Homo sapiens: one gene and its partners. The protein of the gene in region 3 interacts with the protein of the main gene of each other region in a biochemical or structural test. Each region holds a gene or a part of one and is shown on either strand. Other genes may lie near its edges. The genes, in order: RNF11, SMAD1, SMURF2 and SMAD2.

The links.
Region 1: the proteins of SMURF2 (region 3) and RNF11 form a complex in vitro, tested with the Homo sapiens proteins (3 studies listed by BioGRID and IntAct, with this or other methods).
Region 2: the proteins of SMURF2 (region 3) and SMAD1 form a complex in vitro, tested with the Homo sapiens proteins (2 studies listed by BioGRID and IntAct, with this or other methods).
Region 4: the proteins of SMURF2 (region 3) and SMAD2 form a complex in vitro, tested with the Homo sapiens proteins (3 studies listed by BioGRID and IntAct, with this or other methods).

Annotation. Positions count from the first base shown.
Region 1 is NC_000001.11:51,232,317-51,239,295, reverse strand, and holds the start of RNF11 (RING finger protein 11), read right to left. Parts: upstream 3,024-6,979; 5' UTR 2,540-3,023; coding exon 2,417-2,539; intron 1-2,416. UniProt on the Homo sapiens protein: Essential component of a ubiquitin-editing protein complex, comprising also TNFAIP3, ITCH and TAX1BP1, that ensures the transient nature of inflammatory signaling pathways. Promotes the association of TNFAIP3 to RIPK1 after TNF stimulation.
Region 2 is NC_000004.12:145,512,829-145,519,856, reverse strand, and holds part of SMAD1 (mothers against decapentaplegic homolog 1), read right to left. Parts: exon of another isoform or gene 6,375-7,028; intron 5,420-6,374; 5' UTR 5,244-5,419; coding exon 4,844-5,243; intron 2,844-4,843; exon of another isoform or gene 2,663-2,843; intron 1-2,662. UniProt on the Homo sapiens protein: Transcriptional modulator that plays a role in various cellular processes, including embryonic development, cell differentiation, and tissue homeostasis.
Region 3 is NC_000017.11:64,554,292-64,561,319, forward strand, and holds part of SMURF2 (E3 ubiquitin-protein ligase SMURF2), read right to left. Parts: intron 3,432-7,028; coding exon 3,317-3,431; intron 1,708-3,316; coding exon 1,529-1,707; intron 703-1,528; coding exon 565-702; intron 1-564. UniProt on the Homo sapiens protein: E3 ubiquitin-protein ligase which accepts ubiquitin from an E2 ubiquitin-conjugating enzyme in the form of a thioester and then directly transfers the ubiquitin to targeted substrates.
Region 4 is NC_000018.10:47,843,656-47,850,683, forward strand, and holds part of SMAD2 (mothers against decapentaplegic homolog 2), read right to left. Parts: intron 5,033-7,028; coding exon 4,820-5,032; intron 2,146-4,819; coding exon 2,008-2,145; intron 1,830-2,007; coding exon 1,685-1,829; intron 1-1,684. UniProt on the Homo sapiens protein: Receptor-regulated SMAD (R-SMAD) that is an intracellular signal transducer and transcriptional modulator activated by TGF-beta (transforming growth factor) and activin type 1 receptor kinases.

The DNA of each region.
Region 1 (6,979 bases), on a different chromosome or scaffold from region 3:
CCTCATCATCACCTAGTTCTTCTGGAAAAGGCAAACACAGTTTCCATAAATTCTAGTACCTTTAATAGTACAATTATCATAAGGATAGGAGAAAGAGAACAAGTCAAAGATATTCAATTAAGAAAGGGGATAGGAGGCAGGAGAATTTGCTTGAGGCCAGGAGTTCAAGACCAGCCTAGGCAACATAGGAGTCCCTGTCTCTATTTTTTTAAAAATAGAAGGGGGTGAGGGTAGGGAGCATAAGAGATTTTAAAATAAAAACTTCATGCCAGATGCGGTGGCTCATGCCTGTAATCCTAGCACTTTGGGAGACTGAGGTGGGTGGACTGCTTGAGGTCAGGAGTTCAAGACCAGCCTGACCAACATGGTGAAACCCCGTCTTTACTAAAAATACAAAAATTAGCTAGGTGTGGTGGCACGCGCCTGTAATCCCAGCTACTCAGGAGGCTGAGGCAGGAGAATCGCTAGAACCCGGGAGGTGGAGGTTGCAGTAAGCAGTGAGATTGTGCCACTGCACTCCAGCCGGGGTGACAGAGCGAGACTCCATCTCATTAAAAAAAAAAAGTTAAATAAGCACTTTTGTTGTATAGTAAACATAGGAGGGAAAGACAGTGAAGGATAAACATAGCTTGCTTGCTTCACTCAAAGGTACTTGTAAAGACACCCAGATTCAGCTTTGATTTTTAAGAGACTACCCTGTGACAACTTACTTTGGAAAAAATATTTGTGTAAATACAGAAAATACTAAATTCAACTTCATTAATTAATTCAGCATTTAGGTGCTTATGTGCCAGAAACTGAGCGAGGGGAGAGTCCCTGTTCTCAAGGGCTTTTACTCGTAATTTATCTCCCAGTTACTGAGTCCCTACTGAGGCAGATGCGAGGGATACAACAGCAAACCGGAAACACAGATTCTCTACCTTCACGCAGCTTGCACTGAAGGAGGCGATTACAAGGATGAGACACACATCTAACAAAGATACAACACTAAAGTGTTATAGATATTGCTTATGGAAGTGTAGAGGTTTCAGTGGGGACACAAGGGATTCGGGCTGGGAAGGAAGGGAATGCTGGGACTTCAGACATGAAAGCTGAGTTCTCAAAGAGGATTAGATGTCCACCTGGCTGACCCGGGCGAAGGGCTCCAAGCAGAGAGGAACTGGAGCAAAACAAAGCTGTGAACAGCCTGGTGTATTTGGTAGGCCTGGAATATAGAACGTAAGAGGGAGAAGTCATGGAGGCTTCTGTAATACCACAATCAAGACTGGACCTTACTGGTATATATGAAATGCCCCCAGAAGAATTTTATTCAGAAAACGAGCATATATATGATCAGGTTTTTCTGGTGTGATGAGACATTGGTTTACACAGGAATGAGAAAAGAAAACACTAGATAATGATGTCATCACATGAAACAACAAAGGAGCCTACCCAGTCAGAAAACTAAACTCTTCAGGAAGAAATTAAGCACTACTACTATTGAAGCCCTCTGGAAAAGGGTGTATTCAATATCATCTAAAATGGAAAAAGTACAGGAAAGGTTTTCACACATCTATTGTGGATTATAACATCCACATACCTATTTTGAGTTTAAGAGGTCTTCACTCGAATTCTGCAACACATCTGGGACTACTGATTATTGTACAAAAAGCAGTACAACGTATTTAGGAGAGTCTTTGATACAAAGGGAGAACACGAGTAACCGAAGGAATTTCCCAAGCCAGGTTTAAAGGTTTCCAAAGTTCAAGCTAATCAAGTTTTCTTAAGTCAGCACGTTTAAAAGGTGTGTCATATGGGTGGAGCAAAAAGAGGAGGGATTAAAATTTATATACATATATATATATATATATATACACATATATATATATATACACACACACACAAGTAACTCGATGTCGCTAGGGTTAAAATCACCACTTGGAGATCCGTCTCCCAAGCAGAGGGAAAACCTGCCAGATCCAATTAACAAAAAGACGAGGGAGGTGGGTAAGAGGACGACCACACATGAAAACATAAATGGGGCGGGGGGGTGGTGCTTGGCAACCACCTATCCAGAACCCATAATCCAGTTGGCGGTGCGATGAGGAAATCATACGATTCAGACATAAAGACAGGAAAATGTCACTCCCAAACTCCACAAGCGAACCACCAGACACTGGCCAAGGGGATGTGATCACATACTCTGATCCCAGAACTCAAGGGCAGAGGGTATCATCCCCACACGGTGCCCGAGGGCAGGCGAAGAATCAACCTTACTCTGAGATCAGAGAGCAAATGCCCTCAGATCCAGCCCTAAGGGGTCAATGCCGCCCAGGCCAGGCCTTGCCGAAGCCAGGGGCAGAGACGGCCCCGAAGCCCCCTCAATCTCCGCCAGAGCTGCCTCTACTCGCTCCCCCCAACACACACCCTCCCCTACCTGATATGGCGGCGGCGGCTCCTGATCCGGCTCCGTCCCCTCGCCAAAGCTAGCCCGGTCGGACTGAGACTCGTGAAGCAGGGAGATGTCATCCGAGGTGGGGGATTTGAGGCAGTTCCCCATCTTCCGGAGCTGGGGTGCGTGATCTGGGGGAGGAGAAAGCAGCGGTGGGGTCGTTCGCACACTCCGCGGTCCGCCTCGGTTGGCGAGGTGGGGTCGGGCGACAGGCCGGGGATCAGGCGGAGGCGACTCCACCGCCCCACGGTGCCGCCGAGGGGCCGCTCATGCCAGCCCCCGGGGTTGGGGGATCAAGGCTGGGCCGCGGGCTCCGCTGGGGTCGCGGCGTTCGCCTCCTGCGAGGCAGCGATGGGGGGGGGGGGGCGGGGAGACGAAGCACTTCCCCACCCCGCCCCCCCGCGGGGCGGCGGCGGCCACGGAGCTGCTGGGCCTAATCCAGGTCAGCGGGGGGGGGCGCGGCCGTCGCGGCTGCCTCAGCTGCTGCCTCAGCTGCTGCTGCCCCCGCCGACGCCGGAGCCACGGCCGCGGGCCTCATCCTACTCCGCCTCAGCGAGACGGCGGCAGCCAGAACGAGGCCGGCTCGGGCACTGCGTCATCGCGCCGTGCGTGCTCTGGTCCCGCCCCCGGCGCCAGGAGGCGAGGGCGGCTCCGGCGGCGCCCATCCCCCTCTCCACTAGCAGCTGTTCTCGGTGCTGCGTCAATTTTTGCTTCTCTCTGACTGCTTGGCTCCGTACCTGGCTCCGAAACCAATCTCCCGTCTCCCGCGCCTCCCCACATTCATTGCTCCTGCCCCGTCTAGGGCTCAGTTCTTACCTGTGCACTGCCTGACAGTCTTCTCACCACCCTCCGCCAAGCGGTCTATTTATATAAACCCATATCGGAATGGATCAGTCCCATGATTAAAATGTTAAAAGCTTCCCCTTTATCCCTTCACAATAAAGTCCTAGCTCGTTACTGAACCATCCCTGCCTGTCCAATCACGTCCTTATCCTTCCACATCACAGCCAGAGAGATTATTCTTCCAGTTGTATATCAGATTGTTCATTTCTTTCCAGTCCCAGCACCAAAGTCCAAGCCACCATCATCTCTCACCTTGGCTTCTGCAATAGACTCTCAGCTGTTCCTGAGTTCATCATTGCCCACATCCAATTCACTGTTGGCACAGTTGACAGAGTTATCTTTTTAAAATTTAAATCGGATCATGTCATTCTCCTGTTAAAACCTTCAGTGTCTCCTCAAGGCTGTCCTTAAGACAATCCTTAAATGGTTTACAAATCTGACTCCCTTTCAATCTCATTAGCAGCATTGTCACCTCCTTCACAAATTCTAAACTAGACTCTCTAAAATGCTTTTCGTTATCTGGAATACTATTGCCTCTGCCTGGGGCCTTTGTCCATATTGTTTCTCTCACAGAAACCCACTTCCCTCCACTCCCAACCTTTCTGCTTCTCATCAGGCTAATCATTATTCTCAGGAATCCTTCTGGATGCAACTTCATTTCCCCTGGGGAGACTCTCCTGACCCTCCAGTCTGGGTTAGTCGCATCCTGTGTGCTCTCAGACCCTGAGCTTTTCTCTGTCACAGCCTGATCAAGCTGAATCATCTGTCCCTCTGTGCAAGGCTGGCACACTGCCCAAGGTAGAGTATGCTCTCTCCTTGGTTGAATGAGCAGCTCAAACAACATATGCAAAAGAAGGAAGCAAGAAGGATGACAGTGCTCCTGATAGACGTTCATTCAACAGGTGGATCTTGACTGCCTTTCGTTTCATTCACCATTTACTGAAGTTGTGTGTGCGTGTGTATACCAGACCCCACGCTAAGGACTGGGGAAAAGGATGATCATACCTGGCTTGTTCCTGATAGAGCCCAGAGACCACCTGGGAAGACAAGTAATCAGGTGAGTCCTAAGCCCACACCCTGCCACGGACCCCAAGGTTTTTAGAGGAACTGAAAGACAGCAATTAGTTCATTTGAGTGAGGAACAGAAAGGATTCTTAGAGGTAGGGCTATATTAAACTCGAATGGGTCTGAACACTCTTACTCTGCAGTCCCTATTCTACGAAGTCACTATCTTATTTAAATGCACTCAAATTCCACATTAAATATCACCTTTTTGATATAAAATTTTTGAAAAGACTCATAATTTTGGGCCAGGCGTGGTGGCTTACGTCTGTAATCCCAGCAATTTGGGAGGTCAAGGCGGGTGGATCACTTGAGGTCAGGGATTCGAGAGTAGCCTGGCCAACATGGTGAAACCCCATCTCTACTAAAAATACAAAAACTAGCCAGGTGTGCTGGTGCACGCCTGTAGTCCCAGCTACTCGGGAGGGTGAGGCAGGAAAACCGCTTGAACCTGGGAGGTGGAAGTTGCAGCGCAGTGAGCCCAGATTGTGCCACTGCACTCTAGCGTGGGCGAGGGAGTGAGTAAGACTCAGTCTCAAAAAAAAAAGGAAGGAGAAAGAGAGAGAGAGAGAAGGGAGGCAGGAAGGAAGGAAAGAAGGAAGGGAGAGAAAGAGAAAGAGAAAAGAGAAAGAAAAGAAAGAAAGAAAGAAAAGAAAGAAAGAAAGAAAGAAAGAAAAAGAAAAAGAAAGGAAAGAAGGAAAGAAAGAACAAACTGACTCACAATTTTGGTTTTGGAATTGTTGAGCTTCCAAGAACTCATTTAATTTATGATTGGCTAAATTTACCAGAAATCAGAGGTACCCTGGAATTTTTACAAAGTGAGAAAATTTACCCCACAAATTATTGTCAAACCTAAAGAAATTTTTATTAATAATAATTTATACAATTATTTGACATAATATTTACACAGTGCTAGAATTTGTAGACATTGTTTGTTTGTTTTGGAGACAGGGTCTCACTCTGTCACCCAGGCTGGCTTGATCGAGGCTCACTGCAGCTTCAACCTCCTGGGCTCAGGTGATCCTCCTGCTTCAGGCCTCTCCAGTAACTAGAACTACAGATGCACACCACCATGCCTTGCATTTGTTTTTGTTTTTGGTAGAGACGAAGTCTTGCCATGTTGCCCAGGCTGGTCTCAAACTCCTGGGCGCAAGCGATCCTCCCGCCTCAGCCTCCCAAAGTGCTGGAATTACAGGTGTGAGCCACTGTATGCCTGGCCAGACATAGATTTATTTAGTTAGTTTTAATTTTTTTTAATTTTTATTTTTTGAGACAGAGTTTTGCTTGTGTTGCCCAGGCTAGAGTGCAATGGTGCGATCTTGGCTTACCGCAACCTCTACTTCCCCGGTTCAAGCAATTCTCCTGCCTCAGCCTCCTGAATAGCTGGGATTACAGGCGCGCACCACCACGCCCAACTAATTTTTTGTATTTTTAGTAAAGACGGGGTTTCACTATGTTGGCCAGGCTGGTCTCGAACTCCTGACCTCAGGTGATCCACCCACCTTGGCCTCTCAAAGTGCTGGGATTATAGGCGTGAGCCAGCTCGCCAGGCCAGATTTATTTTTTTAAGTTTTGTTTTTCATTCTTTTTTTCCACAGGTGGGTAACACTGACACAAGCCCTTGAAAAGTTCTATAGTGCCTTGTGAAAATAAGTTATATTGTTAAGTTTAAAACTAGCTTGGGCTGGGTGCAGTGGCTTACGCCTGTAATCTCAGCACTTTGGGAGGCCGAGGCGGGTGGATCACGAGGTCAGGAGTTCAAAACCAGCCTGGCCAATGTGGCGAAACCCCATCTCTACTAAAAATACAAAAATTAGCCGGGCATGGTGGCATGCACCTGTAATCCCAGCTCCTCAGGAGGCTGAGGCAGGAGAATCACTTGAACCTGAGAGGCGGAGGTTGCAGTGAGCCGAGATCACGCCATTGCACTCCAGCCTGGATAACAGAGTGAGACTCCGTCTCAGTAAACAAACAAACAAACAAGGCTAGTTGTTCACCAGAAGATGGGAGGAGCATTTGAAGCCCATTAATGGCTTGGACATGGTCCCTGCCTTCAAATAGCTCAAACTCAAGTAGATGAGACAAGTAGGTGAACAGTTAGCAGGGCTACATTCAGACCTTTATATTTGTTCTACTTTTATTTTTAACTTTTGCTTCCATGAGCATATATATATCACTACCTCACAAAGGTACAGCTTTAGACCTCTGTGTCTGGTGAGAGAATAACTGTTGCATATTCCCCTGAGCTCAGAGGAAATGATATTTTAGAAAAGATGAATGGTTATTGACCATTATTTTTTTGTGGATGAGTAAAATATCAGCTACAATTTTAACATAGTTTAAAAAAACGATAGAATTTTGTTTTGTTTTGTTTTTGTTTTTTTTGAAACGGAGTCTCACTCTATCACACAGGCTGCAGTGCAGTGGCACAATTGGCTCACTGCAACCTCCACCTCCTGGGTTCAAGTGATTCTCGTGCCTCAGCCTCCTGAATAGCTGGAATTATAGCCGGGGTCCACCATGCCCAGTTAACTTTTTGTATTTTTAATCAAGATGGTGTTTCACCATGTTGGTCAGGCTGGTCTCGAACTCCTGACCTCAAATGATCCACCTGCCTTGGCCTCCCAAAGTTCAGGGATTTCA
Region 2 (7,028 bases), on a different chromosome or scaffold from region 3:
TAAAAGTAGAGTGTAGAATTAGAATGGTGGTTATCAGGGGCTGCAGGGAGGGGTGAACATGGACAGAGGAAATGCTGGTCAAAGGGTACAAACCTTAAGCTAGAAGTAGTAAGTTTTGGTGATCTATTGCACAGCATGGTGACTATAGTTAATAATACATTGTATATTTCAAAATTGCTAAAAAAGTGGGTTTTTTTTTTTTTTTGATACAGAGTCTCTCTCTTACCCAGGCTGGAGTGCAGCGACATGATGATAGCTCACTACAGGTTTGACCTCCTAGGCTCAAGTGATCCTCCTGATTTAGCTTCTGAATAGGTAGGACTATAGGCACATGCCACCATGCCTCGCTAATTAAAAAAAAAAAAAATTAAGACGGGGTCTTGCTATGTTGCTTAGGCTAGGGGTGGATTTTAAATGTACTCACCAAAAAGAAATTAGTATGGTGAAAAAAAAAAAGGTTCAGCTGGGCTCAGTGGCTCACGCCTATAATCCCAGCACTTTGGGAGGCCAAGGCAGGTGGATCAACTGAGGTCAGGACTTCGAGACCAGCGTGGCCAACATGGTAAAACCCCATCTTTACTAAAAATACAAAAATTAGCTGGGCGTGGTGATGCACGTCTGTAATCCTAGCTACTCGGGAGGCTGAGGCAGGAGAATCTCTTGATCCTGGGAGGCAGAGGTTGCAGTGAGCCGAGATCATGCCACTGCACTCCAGCCTGGTCAACAGAGCGAGACTCTACCTCAAAAAAAAAAAAAAAAAAAAAAAAAGCCAACCAAACAAACAAAAAAATGGTTCAGAGAATAGGCAGTAAAAAAAAGAGAAAAAAAGAAAAAGAAAGAAATAAGCAAATACACATGGGAGGTGACAGATATGTTAATTAGCCTCATTTGATCATTCCACAATGTATACATGTACCAAAACATAACACTGTATTCCACAAATATATACAATTATTTGTCAATTTAAAAATAATAATTAGCTTTTCTAACAAGTTCCAAGGTGGTACTGATGCTACTACTCTGTGGACGACACTTTGAAAACCACTACTCTAAACCTAAATATTCTCAATTTTTGAGTTTTTTTCAAGAGTCATTGAGACCTCAGCAGAAGTCACCAAGTTTGGGAGACTTAAATATGTTAAACTGCTAAACTGTTCTTTGAGATACTTCATCAGAAGTAAAATAGTGACAAAGTTCAAAATAATTCAGTGTTGAGCTGTGTATATGTGCAGCTTAGAATTCCAGACCCCCTTTTTCTGATTTCACAAAAACAATACCCAGGTGTACTCTGTACGGCTTTATAGAGGGCTTCAATTCTGGCAGTGTGAGGGGCTAAGTCACCTTGCACATTTTTATTTTTTTTTTTTGAGATGGAGTTTCACTCTTGTCCCCCAGGCTGGAGTGCAATGGCATGATCTTGGCTCACTACAACCTGCGCCTCTCAGGTTCAAGTGATTTTTCTGCCTCAGCCTCCCGAGTAGCTGGGATTACAGGCGCCCCCCACCTCGCCAGGCTTATTTTTGTATTTTTAGTAGAGATGGGGTTTTACTATGCTGCATTTTTTTAACTTTATTTTTCTGAGACAGAGTCTCACTACACTGCCCAGGCTAGAACGTAATGGCTATTTACAGGCATGATCATAGTGTGCTGCAGCCTTCAACTCTGGGGCTCAAGTGATCCTCCCACCTCAGCCTCCTGAGTAGCTGAGACTACAGGCATGTACCACCACATCTGGCTGCCTCTTGCACTTTGATTTAGTAGAGTTTCTCTTCAGAAGGTACAGGGACTGCTTCATAGTGGTCTCTGGAAAAAGTCCTTTGTTCCAATTCCCACATCAGTCACTTCATAATGTGAAAAATATACATAAAATCTTGATATGTTCAAATTAAATAGATCTTAGCCTCAGCCTCCATGTTTTCCAGAACTGTTCTATTCTATCCATGACTCACAAGATTCCTGGGTAAAGGAGAGGCTGAAATGGCATTTGTGGAGTCTCAAAATGCCTATGTAAGCCAGTTTTCCACCTCTTCCCCATTATTTTATTAGCACATATGTTATTAAGAGTAACAAATTCATCTCAGTATTGGTTTTAACTTTTCACCTTGTATCAGAGGTGTAATAGCCATAAAATGACCAAAGAAGGGAAGAAGATGGTCAAAAGGTATAGATAAACTGAAAATTCAGCACTAAAAAAATGGCCAAATGACGATATTAAATTAAAAATCAGCATCACCATTTAACAGCAAAAATTTATCAAATTATGCTTGTTGCTAAAAATAGAGATGTTAATTATACACATAGTCCCTGCCCTCATGGAGCTTTATTTACTATCTTGCAGAGAAGACCAACAGAACAATCATTATAAGTGTGAAGAACATTCTAAAGAAATTCAGGTTGCTATGGGAAATGAGACCTAACCTCCCCAAGCAGAGTAGGGAGATATGTGTGAAGTAGGAGGTATCAAGAAAGGTTTCCCAATGAAACTGACCTCCATCACACAATTACTTAGTTTATTAAGTAATGACCATGTGCTAGACACAAACGATAAATAAGAGTGGGCTAGACAAAGAGGGAGGAGAAACAGGTACAGATAGAGGAAACGTGCATGGAATGTTTCCAGAGAACTCAAGCACACAAAGCATGCAAGAGTACAAAGGAAGTTGGAAAGGGAGGAAAGGACCAGAATGTGCAGACCTCTCTAGAGGACTTCTCAAGAGTAGGGAAAAGTAGGACAACAAGAGGATCATGTCTGCATCTTAAAAGATCCCTTTCTGTAGACAATGGACTGAAGGGGGTGACCAGTCAGGAGGCAGTTGCTGCATTGCAAGATGAAATGCTGGAAGGTTAGCGCAGGGTGAGGGGGAGTATGGATGGAGAAGACATATTCATAGTGTCTTTTAAATAGTGAATTTTGCCTTTCATGTCAAATGCCTCTATTTTCTAGTTCTAACACAAGGCACTTAACTTGTAGGGGCCTCAGTTTCATCGCATATGGAGTAGAATTAAAATCTTACCTATGTATTAATACATTTTAAGGTTACTACGAGGATCAAAAAAATCATGTGCCTAAATAATATTGCTGGTACATATTACTTATCTACTACATTTTACTCTCCAAAACTCTTAGCTCCATTTCCATTTCTGGCTAGAAGAGGGACATGTACCTCTGTGCTGAGTTTAGAAAAAAGAACACTGCATCACAGCTGATATAACAAGCAGTAAAGAACGTCTATATCCAAACTGGTAAGGAGAATTCAGCACAGTTGTTAGAAAAAAGGCAATGCTCTCTTAACCAAGAGCAACTGTAACAAAATGTAACTTTTAAAAGGATACAATAAAAACCAGTTATCTAGAAATAAATCTAGTAAGTGCAGGAGCTGTATGGAGAAACTTAAAAGTGCACTAAATAATATTATGCTCAAGAGCACAGTAGGCCAATCTTCCCCAAATGAAATCAACGAAATTCCAATAAATTCCCAAAGTGTTTTTCATAGGACTTAACAAGGTAATCCTAAAGTATATAATCTAGAAATCACAAAAACGTAATGTTGGATGAACATAAGTTGTACAAAGAAACTCCAATATTATGTAACATTTTTAAATATATAAAATATTACATATTGTCATGGACTCATACATATGTAATAACAGTATAAAAACATGCATGAGAATGATAAGCGTCAGATTCAGAACAGTGGTTACCAAAGGGAGCAGAATCAGAGGAGCAAAAACAGGGGTTCCAGTTTACACGTAATCTTTTATTTCTTAAAATGAGTAGGGGATACAGAGATGTTTGTTATACTACTGGTCTTTAAAATCTTTTTTTAAAATATGTCTTAAATATTCCACAAAAATACAGAATGCCTTTTATTTGAAAACCATGTTATTACATGATCTAGTTTAGTAATTCCTAAACACCAATCCAATAGCTACATCAGTAACACCTGAAGTACTTGTTAGAAACAAAGATTACCAGGCTATCCCAGGATCAGGATTTCTGGGAGGAGAGCCATGTGATTCTAATATACAGCCTTAGTAACCCAGGAACTATTAACAGCCAATCCATCAACAAAATTGGTCCCAATCGACAATGAGACATTTAAGTGCTTGAATATCTAATCACTTTCCAATGATCCAACTCTCTAGAATGTAGATTCTAACTTGAGGGCAAAACCGTATAAATTTTAAAATATATCCTTTACCATACCCTCCCAAAAGACTATACATGTAAAAACTGGGTATATTTTATAAAGTAATAGCATCAAATGATTCCATAGAAGGATATAATTCCTTCATATTCACCATAGGAAATATGCCACAGCAAAATTCCGCCAGAGATGATAAAAAGTGCTGTTCTTAAGTTCAGAATGGTTTAAGTCACTGGCAACTACCCTCATGATGTACTTCCCTTAAGCATATAGACAGCAATAATGCATTTCTTTCCTAATTTTCTTCCCTTAGAATACAATTCATAGCTAATTTTATCTAGAGAAATGCAGAGAACCATGTGAGACATAAAAAATAAATTTAGAAAGAAAACAATTTATTAAAAATTAGAGGTATTAGTACTGCAATGACAATTGTCATAGCCTGCTCCCAAGACATAATGTTAACTAGAGATGACTAAGCTGTTAAAATGTATGAAACACTCAGGGGCTTTCTCTCTTGCATTCACACAGACACACACACACACACACACACACACACACACACACACACACAGTTTCCCCAAATATTTTTAAATTACAACTAAAAACAAGCAAAGGGATTATTTTCATGTTCTAAACAACACAAATCTGGTACTGGGCACACAAAGCACATCAACATAAAATAACTCACTTACCAGGGCTTTCTACTCTCTTATAGTGGTAGGGATTGATGCAGACCTCCTTCTGCTTGGAACCAAAAGGAAACTCACAGCATTCCAGTGGTTTTAGTTCATGGTGGCTCTGAAGATCGGGCCAGCGCCACACACGGCAGTAAATGACATGAGGCAGTCCCTTCCGGTGGGAGACTTGCAGCCTGCCATCCAGAGAGCGGGGAATGGTGACACAGTTACTCGGTTGCCCTGGGCAGCTCAAGGCCTTTTCCAGTTCCTCCATGGCACCTTTCTTTTTCTTCAGTTTTTTCACCAAAGCATCAACAGCTTTCTCTGCCCATTTTTCTTCTTCATCGCCCTGTTTCCACCCAAGAAGTCTCTTCACAGCTGGACTTGTAAAGGAAAATAAACTTGTCACATTCATAATGACAGCACTAGTTATACTCCTTGGATATGGTGAAATAAAGCTGTCTCCAAATGCAAAAGGACAGCAGAAGAGATTTGTTTATTTACAGAGAAGTCTCTTTAACTTCTTAGTTTGAAGTCCAGAAGAGTAGAAATTACCATTCCTAGTGTTTAAAAAAGTAACCCAGTCAGCACCTACAAAACAAAAAAAGAATGGTTAGAATCATCTTTACCATACAACCACATTTATTAAGTAATCACCATGTGCTAGGTACTATTTTAAGTGCTTTTATGTAATACAGTATGCTGTGGACTGAATTGTGACCCCTAAAATTCATATGCGGAAGCCCTAACTCTCAGTATGACTATATTTGGAGATGGAGCCTCTAAGAAAGTAATTAAAGTTAAGTAAGGTCATCAGGGTGGGGCCCTAACCTGATAGGACTGGTGGTCTTAAGATTGCTATCTCCCTCCTCCAGCCTCTATGCACACACACTGAGGGTACTGCAAGAAGGTGATCATCTGCAAGCCAGGAAGAGAGCCCTCACCAGAGCCTGTATTGTCCAGAACCTTGATCTTGGACTTTCCAGACTCCAGAACAAAGAGAAAATCTATTTCTGTTATTTAAGCCACCCAGTCTATGATATTTTATTATGGCAACCAAAGCAGACTAATATATAGCATTTAATGCTTTTCACAATCCTTTGAGTTAGGTAATACAATTGCTGCCACTTTACAGATGAGTAAACTGAGAAGCAGTTTAAAAAGTAAGCCACTGTTAGCAAAAGCTCTGGGATAAAAGCAACAAAGTTAAAAAGCCCAAGTTCTCAAAAGATATTGTAATATTTTAGATTTAGATTCATTTATAACCTCTAAAAATATATTTCAAAACACCTCAATCAACAAAAACTGAAAGCAACAGGGAGAAAAAAATAGTCTAATATCTCTGTTTTTTTGGTTTGTTCTACAAATATTTCTTAGGCTAAAAGAAAATTCCTCTTATATAAATGTAGTAATATTTTAGGGTATTTCTTCAGTGAACAAGCCTGTGTCTATGGGCTACAGGACAAATAGGATAGGAAATACATCTCCTGCTTTAAAAATGTTGCTATTTATTGACATAAAAGGAATAAAGCACATGGACACATACTGTACCAAATTCTTTAGCCAAGTTGCCTCATTTAAACTGTTTACTCTTTAGCACATGAAAACATAAAATGTGAAAAAGGTTAAGGAGGTTAACTTTGTACAAACCCTGGCTAAACTGGAGTAGCACGTATCAGACCAACCTCCTTCCAAACAAACAAGCCAGAAAACAAACAAACAAAAGCCCAGCTTTTTAAAGGCATCAAAGAGGAACCAAGGCACTCAGGACTTGAGGGGGCCAAGATCCTGGAGAGAGGGGAAATGCAATGAAGTGAGCTGAATATTCGTCACCACTCTTTCCAGGGATTTGCCAATAGCTATGCTATGAGCAGCAAAAGGTCTAGGAGCCGAGCAGAAAGAGGTAACTAAGAGGCTAAAAACTAAGCAGAGCTTCTAGTAGCCTCATAGCGCTGAGGAACCCCAAAATAACAACACAGCAACAAATGGAGTTGAGGGCCTGCTGAGGAGAAACCCTGGTAAATAGTCTAGGCTTTCAATGGAAGCTCCTGGAGGAATATGCCCCAGTCTAAGGGCAAAAATGAAACGGATCAGTCTTTACAACCAATCTAGAATCATCTTAATCCTAGCCTTGGTCTAGGTGATGGGTATTGCTCTCTAACAGCTTGCCAGAAGAAAAACAAATTCTCTGTAGAGGAAG
Region 3 (7,028 bases):
AGAAGTCATGTTGGCCAGGACCAGGCTTAGGCCTTAAAAAGATCTAGCAGCTTCTGCTTTTGAGCTTTAGAAAGCTGGCCACCCCATAAGAAGTCTGGCTATCTTGTTGGGAGAGAGAGTGGCTATGGGGGGAGGGAGTGGCTATGGGGAGAGGGAGTGGTCATGGAGAGAGGGAATGGCCTTTGATATCACATAGGGAGAACCAAGGAACTCAGCCAACAATGAGAACAAGGCCCCAGACAGTGACCCCAGTCAACAGCCATGCCAGCTAGCCCTCAGCCATTTGAGTTATCCTAGTTATGAGTGAAGAGGCCATCTTGGTGTTGCAGGCCTAGCTGACATCTTGTGGAACACCAGTGTTGTCATCCATGTTGTTCTTTTGCCCAATTTCCTGACCCATGGAATTGTGAGAAATAATAAAATGTCTGTTCTAAATAAGCCACTAAATTCTCCTGAAGCGGATTTTGTAACACTAAGTAGTACTATCTAAATATTTAAGTTTGTTCATACTAACATTCTAGAACATTTTAAAAAATTCAGCCTTGAGAACACAGGAGTGTTTACCTGACATATTCTTTTTTATTTTCTTCATTAACAGGGATACTTTTGCCATTTGGTTTAAGTTCATGCTGAATAATTTCACCATATGCATTATGTTCAACACAGAAGGTATGGTCCAAAACACCTGTAATATCATTCTCACTGGATAGGAAAGAGGAAAAGATATGTAACTGGGAAACCTAAAATACAGACCCTATAGATGTATTAATTGGTGAGATAAAACTAAGATCATTTTATAATATAACAAATGTGAGGTCAGATTCTGCTTCCATACCACCTAGTTCTTTCTGGACAGAAAAGTCAAAGAGCTTTAACCTTCATAAACACAGAAAACATTTAACTTCCTGAGTAATGAGAAAGAGCCTTGGTCAAAGCTGGGCCTTGCTAGAACCACCAATATAGGACAATTTCAGTTACATTTGGCATTCTGAAGAGCCCTACTCGGTACTGTACTCCAAGGGGCCAAGTGCCTGTGTATCCCTAGTGAGAAAGCTACTGTATACTTTATAAAAAATAAACATTGCCAGTGTATCTTCACAAAATAATGACCTCTTGCAAAACAGAATCAGTTCTTAGCTTAAATTCAACAATTAGTTCTTATTCTAAAAGTACGGTTCCAACAATCGCCACTTCATTAAAAGCAACAGCAGCCAAGAATTTGCTATTCTAACACACGCAGGTTTGGAACAGAATTTGTATCACATTGAGGAAACAATTATATAAAGTACTTTTAAAAATAGAAATATACTAGTTGTTTTTTCCTTTTTAAAGTAGTAACACTTGCTAAGTTTAAGGAATTTGAAATGTATAAAGAAGCTACAGGAAAGGGGGAAATCATATGCGATCCTATCACTCAAATAACCACTCAATATTTTCTGTGTAATTTTTTTAAGTACATCAGTTTTGAAACATATTTTTTTTTAAAGCTCAGAGTTTATAATGAAGAGATAGAAGACTCAATACATACAGTATCCACACTAAACTGTTGTGAAGATCCGGATCTACTAACTCCATGTCATCCAAGGTAATTGACTTCCCAAGCAATTGCTTATAAAAAGGCAATGTGAAACCACCATCAATATAATGTCCATGAAACACAGCCATTCCCATTATTCGTCCAACAAAGTGGAAATAGGATAAATGTTCCTGAAATTGAAAACAGTATATATACTCGTTAGGCACTACCCAGGAAAATTTTAATAAAAATGAAATATTTCAGCAACATTAATCTTTTTGAGAATAAGCATAAAATTTTTACTCTTCAATAGAGTCAGGAGGGAGTATTTCTCTAGGGCATGCTCCAGAGTCTCTAGATCACCAGAGAACAGCATATTACACAGGGTAATATGCCCTTCTCGCAGGGGCCAGTCATTTTGTAAATTTTATCTTTTAGAAATTAAGTCCAAACTATGGTCCCGGAGCTTCATTCAACTACTTGCAGATCCTTTTCTCTTCCTTCTCTCACCTCCTGCTGAGCCCTTTGTCATGAAAAAAAATCTTTCAATCCTAAACCTCCCTACTTCCTTGACCTAACCAGAAATTAAACATCAAAACACCATAGATTTAAGAGCACAGACTTGGTGTCAGACTTGAATTAGAATCACGATTCTGCCAGTCAATGGCATATGGACAAATTAACCCCCGTAAGACTAACTGTCCACATCTGGAAATATGAGGATAATAACAGTATCTAAAAAGCATCTCTATGAGGAGTAAAATGAGGTGATGTTTGAAACCCATGGAACTGGACCTGGCATGTTATAAGCAGTCAATGAGTCTGGGCTATTGTTACTACAGGGGCAGTAGTGGGCCCTCCAAAAAGAACCTTCACCTCAAAATCCTCCCTAAATAACTTCTTGAAACAAATCTAACATTTCTACCCTTTTATATATATTTGGTCTTTCGTCACAGATTGTTTTGTTAGATGTTTGTATTTTTAAATTCTTTTACCTCTCTATTTACTAAGTAATCTTTTAAGCTCGTCTTTAAACCTTTTATCTTGTTTTTGTTTCTTTTTTAAAAGTAACACACGCGCACGCACACAAACATATATATTTACCAAAGTTGCATTATACTATTTGATAACCTTCGTTTCACTTAACACATCATAAACACCATCTTTCCATATCATTAACTATTATCCCACATTATCATTTTAGTGGCTGTATAGTATGCCCTTATATGGAAAGACAATATAAAAACAATACATTAGTAATAACTGCTAACTTCTGTTGAGTGCTTAGTAATGTAGTTGATAGAGTTGTAGAGTGAATAACATACAGCACTGTGCTAAGTGCTTAATGTGCAGGGTCCCATTTCATTCTCATAACCCCTCTTTGAGGTACAAATGTATTTATTAGCAATGACAAAACTGAAGCTTAAGTCCATGAACTTGCCCTGAAAGGTCACAAAGCTAGTAAGTGATGAGACCACGACACGTCTTTCTAATTCCAGAACCTATGCCTTTAATCATTTGCATTATTCTGCTTCATGTCATAATTTAATCAGTCCCCGCTCCTGAAGACAACTATGTTGTTTTCAGTTGAGTGCTACTATAAACAATAAACATCCCTGTTTCCAAATTGGTGCATATATCCATAATCATCTGCTTGGGAAAATTTTATAGAAGGGGAATTGCTGAGTCAAAGGGCACAACTAAGACAAGGACAAATAATTTCTATATAATAAACTACATTAACATGTAAACATGAAAAGCATTATTGGTCACAATTCACATCATAACTTCAAATCATACCGGATTAACTGCAGAATCAGGATTGATCTGCAATGTATAAATATCATCTCTTGAATACTGGAAGAGGCCATAGTATGGATTCAACATTTCATGTGACAAGAGATACAACCATTCCCTAGAAAACAAGATATGACCAAGGAATTTTTTTGTTAATGTATACATTTTTATTAAGATATGTCATTAACTAATCATTTTAGCAAATAATTATTTAAATTAATAAAAGGCAAAAAAGCACTAACTACAGTTATATAAGATCACATTGGAAAAATCTACCGTACCCAAATAGCATATAAAAACTCTATTATATTGAAGTAACATCTCACGCAAAATTTAGGCAATTTTATTATATTTTAGCATCAAAGAGTATAAAAGTATTATCCAACAGTTCAGCTACTCACGAGATGATACGGTCCAGTGGTCTGTTACTTTTAATTGCCAAATAAATTTGTAATCCATAATAAACATAAAACAAAAGGAAGAATATGGTTTTATTTCAAAATGTCCATGTGAGGCTGGGGACGGTGGCTCACACCTGTAATCCCAGCACTTTGGGGGGCCAAGACAGGTGGTTCGCTTGTGCTCAGGAGTTTGTGACCAGCCTGGGCAACAAGGCGAAATCCCATCTCTACAAAAAATACAAAAATTAGCCAGGTTGATGGCAAGTGCCTATAGTCCCAGCTACTTGGGAGGCAGAGGTGGGAGGATTGCTTGAGCCCTGGAGGTTGAGGCTGCAGTGAGCTGAGATTGCACCACTGCACCCCAGGCTGGGTGACAGAGACCCTGTCTCAAAGAAAAAAAAAAAAAGTCCACGTCATCTCTATTATCCTGGTCTACTCCTATCACGACCAGTTTATACAGACATATAATATAGTATTGATTTACTCTTCATTTTGGACAAGGCTATATTTTGTTGTAGTATTAAGGACATTTCATTATTCATTTCATTATCATTCACTGTATAAACCCTGAAACATACCATGATAAAAATATAAGTGGGCAAGGATTGCAAGGCATTTGGTGTAGGTATGGACTCAAGGGCAAACGTGCATTCTTTGGGTATGTTCCATACCACTTCTTGACTTCAATGTAAATCAATGTTTTTAAAACCTGGAATAAAAAGTACTTCCACCTTGAATTTATTAAAACCTTCAAATTTTTCAAAGTATAAAAGATAATTTGTTACTCACTTTGGAAATTCACTAGTCTAGGACTTAAGAGATGTAGTTCTAGTCTTAATTCTTGTCATTCCTTGGCTAGGGAAGGTTATTTAAATGATATATTTTGATATTATGGATTAAACAGATTGAATAATATTTTTGAGCAAATGCAGAATAGTATTAAAACTAGTTAAAGGAAACTGTTTCAAAATTCTATGTGATGGAGTCTAAATTAAATTACTACCATTATGTAACATTTGAAAAACTACTCTAGAGATTAAAAAAAGAAGTAACGTCTCCACATAAGCAGCCTTCCCAACATAACACTCATCTGATGTGTCTTGTGTTTTTGGTGTGTGTATGTGTTTTTTAAAAAGAAAATCCAAATTTTTGTTTTGTTTTACCAAGTATTTAGAACACAAATAAGAGCAGAACTCAACTACTTTGAGATTCTACTATGGAATAAAGTTCAGAAAAAGCAGATCACTGTCACATTCCATTTATTCTGCTCAAACCCTGACAGTAGTAAGGTTAAAAAACAAAAAACTGGGCTGGGTTCGGTGGCTCATGACTGTAATCCCAGCACTTTGGGAGGCTAAGGCGGGCAGATCACAAGGTCAGGAGATTGAGACCAGCATGGCCAACATGGTGAAACCCCGTCTCTATTAAAAATACAAAAATTAGCTAGGCGTGGTTGTATGCGCCTGTAGTCCAGCTACCCGGGAGACTGAGGCTGGAGAATCGCTTGAACCCAGGAGGCAGAGGTTGCAGGGAGCCGAGATTGCGCCACTGCACTCCAGCCTGGCGACAGAGTGAGATTCCATCTCAAAAACAACAACAACAAAAAAAACTGACTACGAGCCAGGCATGGTGGCTCGCGCCTGTAATTCCAGCACTTAGGGAGGCGGAGGCTGGAGGATCACTTGAGGCCAGGAGTTTGAGACCAGCCTGGGCAACACAAGATCCTGTTTCTACCAAAAAAAAAAAAATTTTTTTTTTTTTGAGACGGAGTCACACTCTGTCACCAGGCTGGAGTGCAGTAGCACGATCTCGGCTCAGTGCAACCTTTGCCTCCTGGGTTCAAGTGATTCCCCTGCCTCAGCCTCCCGAATAGCTGGGACTACAGGTGTGCGCCACCATACCCAGCTAATCTTTTTTTTTTAGTTTTTAGTAGAGACGGGGTTTCATCATGTTGGCCAGGATGGTCTCAATCTCTTGACCTCGTGATCTGCCCACCTCAGTCTCCCAAAGTGCTGGGATTACAGGTGTGAGCCACTGCACCTGGCCAAATTTTTTTTTTTTTAATTAGGCATGGAAGCATGTGCCTATAGTCCTAGCTCTTTAGGAGGCTGAGGCAGGAGGATCACTTGTACCTAGGAGTTCGAAGCTGCAGTGAGCCATGATCACACCACTGCACTCCATGGAGCCTGGGTGACAGAGTGAGACCCCGTCTCTAAAAAACTAAATAAATAAAATAAACTACTTATTTGATCTATACATATAATTATAGTACTTAGATGCCACCAGTAGTTGATGATGAAGTGTTCCCAATAAACATTCACTCTAGTTATGAGTAAGTAATACAAATTCCACAGAAACTGTCAAGTCCTAAGTATGATGTACAAGGGATTATTTTTAAAAATCCACACTAAAGAAACTATCCATCCGTAGGTTTAAAAGGTGACAGAATGAAAATAAGGCTACAAATACACACATGTAATGCTAAATAACAATTAATGGGAATTATTGAAAACATAATTTTGGTTGGATTTAAGATTAGGGAAAGCAGAATTACCACAATGATCCTTGGAACATTTCAATACAGAGCTACAGTGTTTCTCCATTTATATAAAACGAATTTTCACACATAGAAAAGAATTCTTGTAGTAAATATAATATCAGAAATAAATCACTGGCTGGGTGTGGTGGCTCACACCTGTAATCCCAGCACTTCGGAAGGCTGGGGCAGGCAGATTGTTTGAGCTCAGAAGTTCGAGAATAGCCTGGGCAACATGGCAAAACCCCATCTCTACAAAAAAAAAAAAACAAAAACTAGCCGGGTGTGGTGGCTTGTACCTGTAGTCCCAGCTACTCAGGAGGCTGAGGTGGGAGGCTCTCTTGAGCCCAGGATGGGGAGGTTGCAGTGAGCTGAGATCACGCCACTACACTCCAGCCTGGGTGACAGAGGGAGACCCTGTCTCCAAAAAAAAAAAAAAAAAAAAAAAGAAAGAAAATTAATTTGACTTGACCTGTGAGTTACAAATGTAGCAGAAGCATTCTACCTTCTGTACTGAAACATTCTGAGGACCATCATGATATGTACATGTGTATACACACATGCATGCATACACATTCATTTAACAAGGAAAAAAGGCATAACAAATGGAAGCAAAGAGAACCAGTATTCAGTTCAGGTTATATATCATTTAAATCTCAAAACTGTTCCTGACAATGTAAAGCAGAGGCAATAATGTACTTAAAGAGAGAGATGGAGAAAACACAGGGCCTGCAGTCTCATGGGACTCAGATGGTCTACTGGGGAGTTCCAGAATACT
Region 4 (7,028 bases), on a different chromosome or scaffold from region 3:
ATAGATGGATATTTGCCATTTTGATTTGTAAATGTTACAGGAAACTACTTGATTTTCCAAAGTCAGATGTACCTGACTCCCAATACTCATAAAAACATACTGCATATTACTGCTTCTGTAATTACAGATTTTACTTTATCTGTGAGTTAAAGAACAGCAGAGTCCACAGTGAATGAAGAAGGGCAGTATCTTTACCAAGTAAAACTGTTCTTAGCAGATCTATAGATACACATGGAATTCTCTCTGTAATTCACTCTTACTTCCACTAAATTCCTACCATATTTTGCATTATTCTAACCTTCTGAAGAACAAAAAAAAGTCTGACCTGAAATCTTATTAGACAATATAATTTAAATCTAATTTTGCTATCAACTCAGGTCAAGTCTAATTTTAAAAAACGGCATTCAGCATTCTTAACAGGTAACAACATCTCAAAAGGGTAATAATCAAAACAGAACTACAGCAAAATCACAAAATGAATTATTCTACCAATATAACTCAGAAAAAAATAGTGACAAGTCTTCATTCTCTGATACAAATATATACCATATATTTTTAAATGTATTCAACAAGTAGACCTCACATTGCACAATCTCAAATCAGATTTCTGACAAAACTTAAGATAGACAAGCAAGTCCAAAACAAATAAATTTGGAAGGGACTAAATTGCTGGAAGAAGCAGGAATACAATCACTATATTACATGAATATTTCTTAAGCAGGCATATGGAGTAAGCAATACGAATTGAAGAAAGACTAAGTATTTTACTTAATTCCTACTCTTAAATATGGTCAAGAAGTCTTCTCTCTCTTTGATGTGAAATCCAATCTATTGTTTAATTCATCAATAATCTAGACTATCTTATCCACTGATGACAAATTAGTTTTTGTAAAACTTAAACATAATTGTTACTACTATCCTTATAAAAGAGGTAAAGAGTCCAGGAGAACTATCTTCCAGTCCCATCTCAACCACTTATAATGTAACCTTGGGCAAATTATCAGCTTTCTATGTCTATTTCCAAATATGTATTAGTTTGAACCATGTGTTACCTGCAACGATGGCAATTTCATATATTTCAACCTTACAAAGAATGAATTGACAACAGAAATAATAATTTTTAGATACTACACTTAAAACAGCACAGTGCCTGGCACATTAGCAAGTATTCCTTCTACTTCTGAATGAAGTTCCTCCTCTTAACCTACATCTAGTTTGTCTCAATTTAATTGTCCAGCCTTATTTTTCTATTCTCCAAACTGAATTGCTATGCTATTGTCAAGATTATCACTTCCCAACTCTGCCCACCCCATTTATGACTATTGAAATCCAATGCACCTTTTACAACTAGATCATGTGCCATCAAGTTTTCCTTGAGCACCGTGTGCAAACATCTCTCCTTCCATAAACTGACATAACCCTTCATATACACCCCTTTTATGATATTTAACACTCTGAATTACGTTAAAATGCACGCCTGTGCATGTTTTAATATCTTCCATAATGGCAGCTCAGTAATTTGCAACAGTTTTGAATTTGGAGGCCTCCAACTTTATTTTACATAAAGATCAGCTGACTCTATAACCTCATTGAAAATAGATACAAATGAACTCCAGAATATGCAAGAATGCAATGAAACATAATTACACTGTGGAAATTTAAGAACCAAATATGTATTTCATACCGGTATTCTGCTCCCCACCCTTTCACAAAACTCATTCTTATGGTGCACATTCTAGTTAGCTGATAGACGGCTTCAAAACCCTGATTAACAGACTGAGCCAGAAGAGCAGCAAATTCCTGGTTGTTGAAGATCTTCAGATTACAGCCTATGATTAAAAAAGGTAAAAGAAATTGTCAAAAGAGTATCATTATTAAAAAGTAATTTTAAAAGGGTTACAAGTTTTAGAATATGAGCATGCAATCATCTACTGATTCCTAAAATTAGCAACAAGAAAAACTAAGCAAGTTGACATGATAGGTTTATGTACATTATTGAATCCATACCTGGTGGAATTTTACACACTGTTGCAGGGTGCCAGCCATATCTCTGATTACAATTGGGGCTCTGCACAAAGATTGCACTATCACTTAGGCACTCAGCAAAAACTTCCCCACCTATGTAGTATAAGCGCACTCCTCTTCCTGAAACAAAATACAAATGAGATTAGTTTTGTAACATTTACTATTTCAGTGTGACTTTGGAAGCATTTTCTTGGAAAAATTCTAAAATGATATAAGGTATTTCCAGGATCTTTTTCACAGATAATGTCTTTCTGAAGTCTAACTTTAAATATACTACTGTATATTTCTCCCAAGTATTTTCTAACAATAATTTTATTGATTTTAAAATACATGTGTACTGACTGAAAGTATTTAAACAATGTAGAAAAAGTACACATAGTAAAATAGTTTCATACAAATGATATATATTAAGATAAGTAAAAGATTGAGTTAATTTTGAAGGAATTCACTAATGTTTGGAGAAATATATCTTCATTACAACTGTAGTTTCTTAGAGATCCCACTTAATGTTAAGAAAAAAGATGTAAAAACATCAAAAAGTCATTTGCCATTTTAAAAACTATATATTATGGTGGAAACCCAACCTCTAGATGTATAAGCATGATTAGGTGAGAAAAAATTCTACTGGGAGATTTTTAATATACTTCTTTCAGAATCTGAGAGATCACAGATGCAAAATAATATGAGATATAAGAATTAAAAAAAAAATTGTGAGAAGCAGAGTTCTAACATGACACCTAAGAGTCTCAGCCCTGAGGTGCACATACATTCTCTGTTAATCAAACACTAGGTGCTGCTGTTAAGGATTTTTTCAGATGTAATTAAGGCAGCAAATCAGTTAACCTTAATCAGGCAATCCTTTAAAAGGGACTAGACTGTCATAGGCTAAGTGATTCAAAGCATGAAAGGTATTCAACACAAGAGACATTCTCCATTGCTGACTTTGAAGATGGATGGCACCATGTGACAAGGAATTCAGGAGGCATCTAGGAGCTGAATTCTGCCACAACCATGTGGGTTTAGAAGAGGACCTCAAGCTCCAGATAAGAACACAAGCCAGCTGATACCTCAATTTTGGCCTTGTTAAACCCTGAAAAGACCGCCTAACCCATGTCTGGACTCCTGACCCACAGAAACCGTGAGGTAAAAAACTGATGTTTTAGGCCACTGAGTTTGTGGTAATTTGTTACACAGCAAAAGAAAACTAATCAAACAACTAACACTCCAGATTTAATACAGAACCTGGTACGGTGGTTCTGTTAAGACTATGGAATATCTGTAAAACAGTCATGCACGTGGTCATTGGGAAAACACTAAGTCCAAAAAGTAGAGATTTTTCAGGCTATATTCCCTGATCAATATCACCTATAAAACTAGAAATAAAAAATTTAAAAAAATCCAATAACGACAGCAATCTAAAACTTTGGAGGGAGAAGAGAATAAGGCAGAGAAAACCCATTAAATTTTTTTGCAGAACCCCAATTAAGTCACAAAAACAAAAAACTATTTTAGTTAAAGCACCTACAGCGACACTGGGTATCTTAATAAGATTATCCAAATTTATACATCAAGCAAGATTTGAGAACTTCCACTTGGAACCAAGTAATAGATCTTCTAGTCACTATCATTTTGCAGTATCAAAATCACACTTTGATAACCAGCATTACTTCTCACAGGAGGTAATGGTTAATTAGAAAAAAAACAGAAGCAAACTACTGTTAAAAGAAGTTACTTTAAGGTGATGAGAATGATGTTCAATTATGAATGGTTCTCACACTTTTTCACTTCATCGTTAAGGAAATACTGAGGACCCCAAAGAGCTTTTGTTTATGTGAATATTATGGAAAATGACCATATTAGATATAAAAACTGAGATTTAAAAAATTCATTTAAAAATCAAATCCATTACATATTAACAATGTTTATAAAAAACAACTGTATTTCCAAAGCAAAAAAAAAAAAAATAGAGTGGCAACATTTCACCATTTTTGTCTATGAAAAACAACTATATTTCCAAAGCAAAAAAAAAAAAAAAAAAAAATAGAGTGGCAACATTTCAACATTCATGTCTAGTGTAACAGAATTGGAGTCTCATTATCAAATCTACATTTCATCTCTTGCAAAATCATATGCATGTAGGCTCTGGAATACTCCACTGTACAGTCATGAGAGTATGAGAGTAGAAATGGCAAACAGCATCTCAGTACTACTATGAAAATAGCTTTGACCTCACAAACTAGCTGAAAGGGTTTCTGGGACTACCAGAAGTCCCCAGACCACATTTTGAGATGTCCCTGAATTATATTTTGAACTATATTAAATGCAGTTCTTGTTTTAGATATCTCATTTCAGATGAACAGCAAGCAGATTTCATTTAATATATAAACTCACCAAAGGGGGAAAAAACCTGGGAGCTATATAAAGAAACTGAAAAAAAACAAAAACAAAACAAAACAAAAAAACATGATTTATAAAAAAGTATTAACCCCCAAATCTGAACATGGCAATTTTATGACTGGTAGAGACTCAGCAAATTAAACTTATCTTAACACATATTTATTGAAGAACTTTCCAGTACCAAGGGTGCCAAATAAAAGTTGAAGAGTTTGCAGCTGAAGCATCACCAGGATCTATTAGAAGCAGTGAAGCCTGTGCACTTAAATGTGTCGGCACTTAAACCACCAGAGAGAAAGCTGGTTTTACTGCACACAAGCTCTTGATGTGGCACACCATGCAATGCCTACATTATGAGTATACAGCATTTATTTTTCACAACAAGGAAAATAAAACATACCTATATGCCTTCTTGTCATTTCTACCGTGGCATTTCGGTTAACATTGGAGAGTAAACCTAAGCAGAACCTCTCTGAATTTGATGGGTCTGTAAAGCCATCTACAGTGAGTGAGGGCTGTGATGCATGGAAGGTTTCTCCAACCCTCTGATTTAATTCATAATATGCTATCGAACACCAAAATGCAGGTTCTGAGTAAGTAACTGGCTGTAAATCTGAAAAAGAAAAAAATAAAAAAATAATAAAAGGAAGAAATGCGTGAACAATTCAAGCCAAAAATAGATTTAATATAATCATCTTTACATGCTCTATGCCAGCCTGCACTGGCAAAAGCTCAGGAAGTAGACATAGTATCTGTATCGGTTTCCACAGATGATACCAGATTTTCAGTATTTTTCACACAAAACTCCAGTTTCATAGATCATACCAGATTTTTTCAAATTTCTCCCATGTCATTAAATCACTTTATGTTGGATTCTTTGTTTTACCAGTAGTTTTAGTCTAGCTCCTGTTCAAATACAAAACAATCATAGGCAAAGTCAGTCAACTTGCCATACTTGGTGCATTTCTAAAGCACATAAAAAAGCTAAAGTGGGGTAAGATAAAGCCAGAGCAAAGATTAATGAGTCAAAAGCCACACAAAGAAAAACAGTAATAATAAAAGGATACAAAATATGACATATTTTTGACATTTGTCTATTTTAACATCAAACTCTTGGTGAGATACCCTAGCTACAAAAAGAGAAAACCCACTCATACATAAGAACCAGAAAGCAGTAACACACAAAGATCATGCAAGTAGAAACAGACCATAGAGTCAAAAGACTACTTATTTCACTGGAAAACTATATATTTAGCTTCTGCAGTTTGACTAAAACATATCATAAGGAATACTGCAAAAGAAAAAAACCTCACAATTTTGTAGAATAAATTCCAAACATGTAACAACCGAAGAGAAATTGTGAAATAGGGTAAAATGAGGGCAAAAATAATAATAGTAATACAGAAATGTATGTATATATATATATATATATATAGTCATCCCTTGGCATTTACAGGGGATTGGTTCTAGGACCGGCTCCCCCTAACTAAAAACCCTTAGATGTTCAAGTCCCTGACATAAAAGGGTGTAGTATTTCCATGTAACTTAAATTCACGTCATCCTGTATACTTTAAATAATCTCTAGATTACTTATAATACCTAATAATATAAATGCTATACAAATATTTGTTATACTGTATTTTAAAATTTGGGCCCAGCACGATGGCTCACGCCTGTAATCCCAGCACTTTAGGAGGTCAAGGTGGGTGATTCGTTTGAGGCCAGGAGTTTGAGACCAGCCTGGGCAACATAGTGAAACCCCATCTCTACTAAAAATACAAAAATTAGCTGGGTGTGGTGGCATGCACCTGTAGTCCCAGCTACTCAGGAGGCTGAGGCAGAGAATTGCTTGAACCCAGGAGGCAGAGGTTGCAGTGAGCCGAGATTGCGCCACTGCACTCTAGCCTGGGCGACAGAGCAAGACTCTGTCTCAAAAAATAAATAAAAATAAATACAATTTGTATTAGTTTTTACTGTCGTATTGTTATTTTCATTTTTTCCCGATTATTTTCAATCTGCAGTTGGTTGAATCTGCAGATGCTGAACTCATGGTTATGAAGGGACCATACACATACACATTTGTACATATATGTGCACACTCTCATATATATATTATATATAGTATATATATATTATTATATATATGTATAATATATATTATATATTATATATTATATATATTATGTATAATATATATTATATATTATATATATTATGTATAATATATATTATGTATGTTATATACATATTATGTATAATATATGTTATATATATTATACATAATATGTATAATATATATTATATATATTATATAATATATATTATATATTATGTATAATATATATAATATATTATATATATTATGTATAATATATATTATATATTATACATAATATATATTATATATTATATATTATGTATAATATATGTTATATATATAATATATATTATGTATAATATATGTTATATATATAATATATATTATGTATAATATATATTATATATTATATATATATTATATATATTATGTATAATATATATTATATATTATATATATATTATATATATTATGTATAATATATATTATATACTATATATATATTATATAT